2 separate regions of the Homo sapiens genome follow, and region 2 is linked to region 1. Evidence: fine-mapped expression QTL. A gene starts in region 1. The other region holds a variant in brackets. All regions are shown on one strand. Distances are from middle to middle.

Evidence for each region. PIP is the estimated chance that this variant, and not a neighbour inherited with it, causes the effect. A credible set is the group of variants that fine-mapping cannot tell apart.
Region 2: its variant is the best candidate, but not a certain one, in a credible set for the expression of MPP2 in nucleus accumbens (GTEx, PIP 0.84).

Annotation. Positions count from the first base shown.
Region 1 is chr17:43,905,663-43,910,178 of GRCh38, reverse strand. MPP2 (MAGUK p55 scaffold protein 2) reads left to right here and starts at 2,643. Exons shown (of 13, transcript NM_005374.5): 1 at 2,643-2,705. RefSeq lists an enhancer at 2,484-2,633.
Region 2 is chr17:43,873,842-43,877,841 of GRCh38, reverse strand. It overlaps MPP2 (MAGUK p55 scaffold protein 2), which reads left to right. Exons shown (of 13, transcript NM_005374.5): 13 at 1-2,482. The coding sequence ends at 35. Among named protein-coding and RNA genes, the nearest start is that of CD300LG, 29 kb to the right of the region's middle. The variant C/T (reference allele first, on the strand shown) is at 2,403.

The sequences.
Region 1 (4,516 bases):
GCTGAGGCAGGGAGGAAGGCAGAGCTAATTACAAACCTCAGAGAAGGAGGACTCATTCCCCTCTTGAGGTAGGGGGCAGCCCTTAACTACTAGGGGATGCATTGCCGACCTTCAAACCTGCTTCCCTTCCCAGCTACTCCATTGCCAACCATTAGCAGCTCTATTCCTTTGGGGAACAGCTTAGGACACACTGCACCTTTATTATGGCATTCAGCTGTGCTACCAAGAAGCGCTTTTTGTATCTATGTAACACACTCCTTTCCGACTTCAACCCCAGACTGTGAACTCTAGGAGGTTAGGGCCCTTATCTCAGTATCACAGTAAGTGGTACCTTGCCTGGCACAGAAGAGGAGCATCCTATTCTGCATCAATAAATGTTTCTTCTCATTCTGTAACTGCACAAGGCTGTTGTGAGAATGAAACAATTTGTCAATTGTAAGGTCCTGAACAGATGTGAGAGGCTGGCATTCTGCAAGGCCTTTATTAGAGAGATACTTGTTGACCGACGAATGCAGTGGGGCAGCCGCTAAGAATAATGAGTTGGGCTCCACCTCCCCAGGTGGGCCAGAATCTGAGATCCCAGACTGTCCTGAGGATCCTAAATGGAATGGAAGATTTGATGTGGGTCGCTATGGAGGTAATAATTGCTTGATTAAGAAGTAATTAATATCTTGTAGAGATTCAAGATCCTTCCTCTTCCAAAATACAAATAGCTGAGTGATTTCCAGCCCAGAGGTGGACAGGTGACAGTGGAGGGTAGCCTTTATAATGGAAAGGGGAACTCTTCCTGAATTCAATTATAAGGATTTTCTAGGCCGGGTGCAGTGGCTCATGCCTGCAATCCCAGCACTTTGGGAGGCTGAGGTGGGCAGATCACCTGAGGTCAGGAGTTCGAGACCAGCCTGACCAACATGGAGAAACCCTGTCTCTACTAAAAATACAAAATTAGCCAGGCATGGTGGCGCATACCTGTAATCCCAGCTACTCGGGAAGCTGAGGCAGGAGAATTGCTTGAACCCGGGAGGCAGAGGTTGCGACGAGCCGAGATCATGCCATTGCACCCCAGCCTGGGCAACAAGAGCGAAACTCCGTCTCAAAAAATAAAAATAAAAAAGAAGAAGAAGAAGAAGGATTTTCTAGCTTGCAGATAGAGGAAAGAGCTGCAAGCAATGCGCTCCAAGAACCCTCTTTGTTTAGAGACCAAAGCCTGCAATTCCTGTCAAAGCTATCTGGGTTCGATGGCTTTCTTCTCTCAGTAAAAGCCTGGGTCACCTAAACAATGTGGTTTTCAGCAGTTCGGCCGCCTCTGTGGCTTTTTCCTATATCCAAACTTATACCCTTGGAACTCAGGGGAGAGCTGAGTCTTGGAACCCAGGGACCAGTCCCCTGCTTTCGGGATAGATTCCCATTTCTGAGATTTCCAAGCAAGTTTCCAGAATGTAATCCATTTCTTTTCTTTTTGTTTCTTTTGAGACAGGGTCTCACTCTGTTGCCCAGGCTGGAGTGCGGTGTTGCAATCTCGGCTCACTGCAGCCTCAGCTTCCCAAGTAGCTGGGACTACAGGCGCGCGCTACCACGCCCAGCTAATTTTGTTTATTTTATTTTTTGTAGCGATGGGGTTTCACTATGTTGCTTGGGCTAGTCTCGAACTCCTAGGCTCAACCGATGCTCCCGCCTCCGACTCCCAAAGTGTTGGGATTATGGGAGTGAGCCACCGCGCCCGGCCAAAGATGCAGTCCATTTATGATCTTAGGAATCCAGTTAGCAAGGAAAAGGGATGACTCTCACATTTTGTTCAGGGCAACTGGACGGGGTGGCTGAACGCCGAGGTCGGAGAAGTAGCGTAGCTGGCCCCAAATGCTAGTCGCACTGCACAGAGCCTCCCGTATTTGGAGGCCCAGCATCTTTTACTAGCAGATGTGGGGTGGAGCCGGAGGCTGGGCGAAGGCGGGCCAGTGGGTTTAACCCTTTATTTACTTTTTGGGCTGGGACTCTGAGGAAGGCTAGCCAGTTACTTCTTTATTCCATAGGCAGGAAAATGGACCAGGCCTCCCTCACCTAGACCTAAAAGAGGCTCTCGAATCCTTTCAGGAAGACATTTCCTCTTTTTTGCAAAATTTCTGGAAAGTCTGGAATCCGGATATCCACCCTCTGAGTCCTTAAAAAGCTGCCCCTGATCCCGAGGCCTTCTGGGGCTGGTATCCTGCTTCCTGGGAGTCTCTCTGAAGTCCTCCTATTCTTTTTCTCAATATGGAAGCAGGATAACGAGGAAAAGTGAGGCACGCCTGGAACTAGAACGCCGGTCTAAGCCAAGATGGGTGGGCGGAGTAATCAAGCCGGTCTCATTAGGCACTTTTACCATCGCCCCTTTAAGGGATCCTTGGGAGCCGAGGGGCACCAGCGGGTACTGGTACCAGTCCTGCCTCCCTAACCCTTCCCAGTGGGACTCCAGCAGGGCGTCGTGGTCTGTGCGGTGTCTCCCAAACCACTACCTGGCTGCCCCCGTACCAGCTGCTGGGAAAGACTACTTCCTCCGAGTTGTGCCGGCCTCCGCGTTCTCCTCACCTCCCCTCTCCTCCGGACCTCCGCCCCCTCGCGGAGAGGCCTTGCCGCTTTAAGAGCCGGGCTAGCGATTGACAAGCAATAAACGCTGAGCGCCCGGCTGCGCTGGAGCCGCCCGGAGCTAGGGGCTTCCCGGGGCGCAGGTAGGCGTCCCCCGGCCCCCGGGCCAGCTCCTATCCCAAGACCTCCGCCTTCTTTTCGTCCTGACACGGCACTTAGGACCCTATTCACTGGGTTTAAACTCCACAGGCCCCTTTCACCCAGGCCCGTTCCCTCCCTGTCCACCCGCCCCCGCCCCTGGGCCCTCTTTCTGGGGTGCTGGTTGGGAGAACCAAGCCCCGCTGCCCATTGACACTGGTCCCCGCCCCTGCGGTAGGGGCTCCAAAGTGGCTTCAGGCACCAAGGTGGTGAGCTGTGAGGGGCCCCGGTATCTGCGCGGCCTCCCCGGGGGCTGTGCGGGTTGGGGGTACTTAGAAGCCCGGCATTACGTAAGAACCGTGCTGTTAGCGCTTCCGGGGGTTGGGGAGCGAGACAGAGGTTGCGCTGGGTCCCGGTGGCCCCCTGGTCCCCCTAGGCAGCTAACACCACAATCTTCCCTGGGAGGGGGTCCGCAGAAGGGCGCGCGCTGCTTCTCCCGCTTCCCAAGCTGTAGCGGGGCGGGTCGGGAGCCAGGGTTAGGGTCTGGAGACTTGGGAGGGGACCGGTGCCAGAAGCGAAGAGCTAGGGTTAGAAAGTTAGGTCAATTAAGGGGGGGGCGGTGCGGATAAAGACGGGGTGGGGGTTGGCCGGGGCAGTCATTTAGTGACCTCATCCCTGGTCTCCGGCGGGCGCGCACGTAGAGAGCCTTCTTTGATGGCTCACAACACGCCCCCCTCCCCCAGGTCCTAGCGCCCAGGGTGTTAGGGCTGGGTCCGTTGGGGCAGGGGTGATCTGATGGTCCAAGCATGCACGTCCGCCTGGCCTTTCGACCCCATCCTCTGGCCCTCAGTTCTGTCCAGACCTCCCCGCGACCTCTCGCTCTCCAAAGCGCCTTTGTCAGACCTTTCTTCTCCGCACCTCTTTGTATGTGTATGGATGGAGGGATGGGTGGGAGGTTGGAAGAAACCTCTCCCTTTCACTGCTGGTCCGCTCGCCTGCGGACACTATGGGTGATGTGGATATCTCGGAGGCAGAGCTGAGAGGGCATCTGGGCCCAGGCTTTTGGAAGCCGAGGTGCAGGTTCCCAGATGTCTGGGTGCAGGACCTTGGCACGGAGCCAGGCTAGCTTGCCTGGCACTGCCGTTCTCCTGTGGACACAGCCAGGCCCCGCCCTCTCAGAGGCTTGGACGGGCGTGGGGGAGCAAAGCCAGCCGATGCTCTGGGAACCGATTCCCCGGGAGAAAACCCAGGCAGGCTGGGCAAGACTTCCGAGCGCAGGGATTTCATACAGGATCCTCCCTGCCTTTTCCCGCCCTCCACGCTCTAGGGAAGGAGGACTTCTGGAGTCCCTTCTCTGACCCTGTGAGGGAGAGCAGCGCCAGCCAGGAGAAGGCTCCAGGTCATCAAGGCCTGGGAGGGGGAGGGAAGGGATCCCTCCTCCCTGCTCTCTAGGAGTAGAGATTGGCACCAGGGGCACGGGCCAGCACAGTGGATCCTGGGCATTTCTTCCAGCCTGGGTGTAGCCTGAATAGGGGTGCCCTTCCTCTCCCTGAAAGCACCTTTATTCCATGTCCTCAGCGGCAGAGCTGGGAGGAAAGGGAACCATCCCCCTCACTTTTGTAATTTCTGTCACCTGAGCTCAGGTGACCAGCTCAGGCCTGAGAAGGGAATGGGAGCAGAGAGGGTTTTATTGAAATCAGGTACTAGTCCTCTGGGAAGAATCCTCTTTTGGGGGGAGGTGGAGTTGCCGTGGTTCCCCCACCCCCAGGACTCAGCAGGCATTCAGTCCTAAAGTGGGCACTGCCAGATGCTTCCC
Region 2 (4,000 bases), 32 kb after region 1:
AGCCCCAGTGGGTGCCTGTCAGCTGGGTGTACTGAGCCTGTTCACCTGGTCTTTGGCTCACTCTGTGTTGAAACCCAGAACCTGAATCCATCCCCCTCCTGACCTGTGACCCCCTGCCACAATCCTTAGCCCCCATATCTGGCTGTCCTTGGGTAACAGCTCCCAGCAGGCCCTAAGTCTGGCTTCAGCACAGAGGCGTGCACTGCCAGGGAGGTGGGCATTCATGGGGTACCTTGTGCCCAGGTGCTGCCCACTCCTGATGCCCATTGGTCACCAGATATCTCTGAGGGCCAAGCTATGCCCAGGAATGTGTCAGAGTCACCTCCATAATGGTCAGTACAGAGAAGAGAAAAGCTGCTTTGGGACCACATGGTCAGTAGGCACACTGCCCCCTGCCACCCCTCCCCAGTCACCAGTTCTCCTCTGGACTGGCCACACCCACCCCATTCCTGGACTCCTCCCACCTCTCACCCCTGTGTCGGAGGAACAGGCCTTGGGCTGTTTCCGTGTGACCAGGGGAATGTGTGGCCCGCTGGCAGCCAGGCAGGCCCGGGTGGTGGTGCCAGCCTGGTGCCATCTTGAAGGCTGGAGGAGTCAGAGTGAGAGCTAGTGGCCACAGCTGCAGAGCACTGCAGCTCCCAGCTCCTTTGGAAAGGGACAGGGTCGCAGGGCAGATGCTGCTCGGTCCTTCCCTCATCCACAGCTTCTCACTGCCGAAGTTTCTCCAGATTTCTCCAATGTGTCCTGACAGGTCAGCCCTGCTCCCCACAGGGCCAGGCTGGCAGGGGCCAGTGGGCTCAGCCCAGGTAGGGGCAGGATGGAGGGCTGAGCCCTGTGACAACCTGCTGTTACCAACTGAAGAGCCCCAAGCTCTCCATGGCCCACAGCAGGCACAGGTCTGAGCTCTATGTCCTTGACCTTGGTCCATTTGGTTTTCTGTCTAGCCAGGTCCAGGTAGCCCACTTGCATCAGGGCTGCTGGGTTGGAGGGGCTAAGGAGGAGTGCAGAGGGGACCTTGGGAGCCTGGGCTTGAAGGACAGTTGCCCTCCAGGAGGTTCCTCACACACAACTCCAGAGGCGCCATTTACACTGTAGTCTGTACAACCTGTGGTTCCACGTGCATGTTCGGCACCTGTCTGTGCCTCTGGCACCAGGTTGTGTGTATGTGTGTGCGTGTGCACGTGCGTGTGTGTGTGTGTGTGTCAGGTTTAATTTGGGGAGGAAGCAAAGGGTTTTGTTTTGGAGGTCACTCTTTGGGGCCCCTTTCTGGGGGTTCCCCATCAGCCCTCATTTCTTATAATACCCTGATCCCAGACTCCAAAGCCCTGGTCCTTTCCTGATGTCTCCTCCCTTGTCTTATTGTCCCCCTACCCTAAATGCCCCCCTGCCATAACTTGGGGAGGGCAGTTTTGTAAAATAGGAGACTCCCTTTAAGAAAGAATGCTGTCCTAGATGTACTTGGGCATCTCATCCTTCATTATTCTCTGCATTCCTTCCGGGGGGAGCCTGTCCTCAGAGGGGACAACCTGTGACACCCTGAGTCCAAACCCTTGTGCCTCCCAGTTCTTCCAAGTGTCTAACTAGTCTTCGCTGCAGCGTCAGCCAAAGCTGGCCCCTGAACCACTGTGTGCCCATTTCCTAGGGAAGGGGAAGGAGAATAAACAGAATATTTATTACAAATGTTAGAATATATTTCTTATACTAGGAATCTCATTTGCATTTGCATAGACTATACACATGGGGTGGAAAGGCCAGGCCTGCCCCCATCTCGTTGGTGTGGCTCTGCGTATACTACACACTCATTCTCCTGCTCCTCTTTTCCCTTAGTCAGTGTCCTTTCATCCTGATTCAGCTCTGCCTTGCATCACCCTCAGCCTAAGGGAGTGGGAAGGAAATGGGGTGTTTTCTTGCTGACCTGAGGCTATAGGGTCACTTGCCATTTCCTACCTTCTCTGGGGGATTTGAGGGTAGAGGCAGGGGAAGATCTGTTGTTGCAGCTGCTTCTGCCCCCTTGATCCAAATGACCATCATCTCTGATGGAGATGGGTTGGGTACCTGGCCTTCATGGCACCTTCACTGCTAGGGATGCTCAAGGGGCAGGCCTGGGGCCCTTCCCTCCTGTCTCTTCTCGGTCTTTCCTCTCTGAGCAGCCTCCTACCTCCCCTGCCTGAGCCCTCACTCCACAGCCCTCCCAGGTACCTAGCAGAGGCTGTCAGTCCTTGGCTCACCTGGAACAGGGCTGGGGCTGGGTTGGAACAGGTGTGTGCCCCCACCACAGCTCTATGACTCTGTTCTCCCTCCCTGCCATTGTGGACTCTTGTATTTGAGGGACCTCAAGAGAGTGAGGACCCTACCATCCACTGTCCATATTCAGTCCCAGCCCCAGTGCGCTTCCTCTGTTC[C/T]CTCCCTCAGCCATCCAATTCTTGAGTTTTCTCACTGATTGGTTTTCTTTCTTTTTCCTTGGATTAAATGTGAAAGCAAAGGCTTCTGGCTCTGCTTTTCTTTGGTTGGGGTTGGATGGATGGCTTTGGGAGAGAGTGAGAGCTGGGGAGCACAGCACAGATGACTACTAGAATGGAAGTCAGAGCAACATGTCTTGTTTTCTGCGATGTCTTCCTTTCCTCTGTCTTGCCCCTGCACACTCCCCCATCCCCAGAAGATGCTCCTTCTAAGTGCTTGTACCCAAGGACATGAACAGACATTTCTCAAAAGAAGACATACAAGTGACAATGTATGAAAAAGTGCTTTACGTCACTAATCATCAGAGAAATGCAAACCAAAACTACCATGAGTTACCATCTCACACCAGTCAGAATGGCTATTAAAAGGTCAAAAAATAAGAGATGCTGGTGAAGTTGCAGACAAGAGGGAGTGCTTATACACTATTGGTGGGAACGTACATTAGTTCAGCCCCCGTGGAAAGCTGTTTGGGGAGTTCTCATAGAACTACCATTCATTCCAGCAATCCCATCACTGGGCATCTACCCAAAGGAGAAGAAATCGTTCCACCAAAAAGATACCTGCACTTGTGTGACTGTCACTATGGGACTGAATGAAGGAGGATGTACGCCACTTGTGACAGTTACTACAGGACCGAACAAAAGAGGACAAATGCAGAAATGAAAACAAGACAAAAGAATCTGCTTTAAAGAAGGGGTCCTTGCTTTTGCTTCTAGTGAGCAAGGGCCCTGAGCTTCCACAGCCCTCCATATTTATTGGGTAGAAAGAGCAGGGAGGAGCAGGTAACCTTTGGTCAGCTGCTTGATTTATCACAGGTTCACATAATTGCTGACAGGCTTCATGTGTGCCTGTAGATAATCACAAACACTGCGCCTGAGGTGTGACTGCCCTCAGCATTCCTTCTGGGTGGCAGACGCAGTTTGTCAGTTTGCCAGCATTCTGCATTATGAGAACAGTTTGCTCATACAGCCTCCAGTGGTATACTGAGTTGATCATGACCCTCATTCTTTCGGCCTCCAACATCTCCCCCTTTTTGTTTTTACATTAATTGAACAAAATCTGTCCTCATGTTATGGGGGTTGATGTCAGTGTGACTCTGGTCAGTCCTCACTCTGTCTTTGCACTCAGATTCAACTGGCTCATGGCTCATACCAGGGGAACCAGGCCCATGGTTGGGATCCATGGGTCCCTCCAGTCTCCTGTTCCATGGTTGCACACACCTTGAGGGCACCCACATGGTTTGTCCATCTCCTATAAAAACATAAGCATACCCTCGTCCCCACGTTAGTAAATCTATAGGCAGTGGGAAACATATTCTGAGGTTCCTTAATGCTTTTCCTACAAAATGCTGACATGACGTAGGACTGCTGAGCATGCCTTGGGGTAAAACTTTCCATTGATAATGAGAAACAGGCTTTCTCCAATCAACAGAAGGCACAGAAAACAAATCGAGGCTTATCCTTCTCGTGTAAAGGTATAGTAAAAAAAAAAAATCTCCAAGATCCATTACTGCCAGAGGCCAGTCTCTTGCTCCCGTATC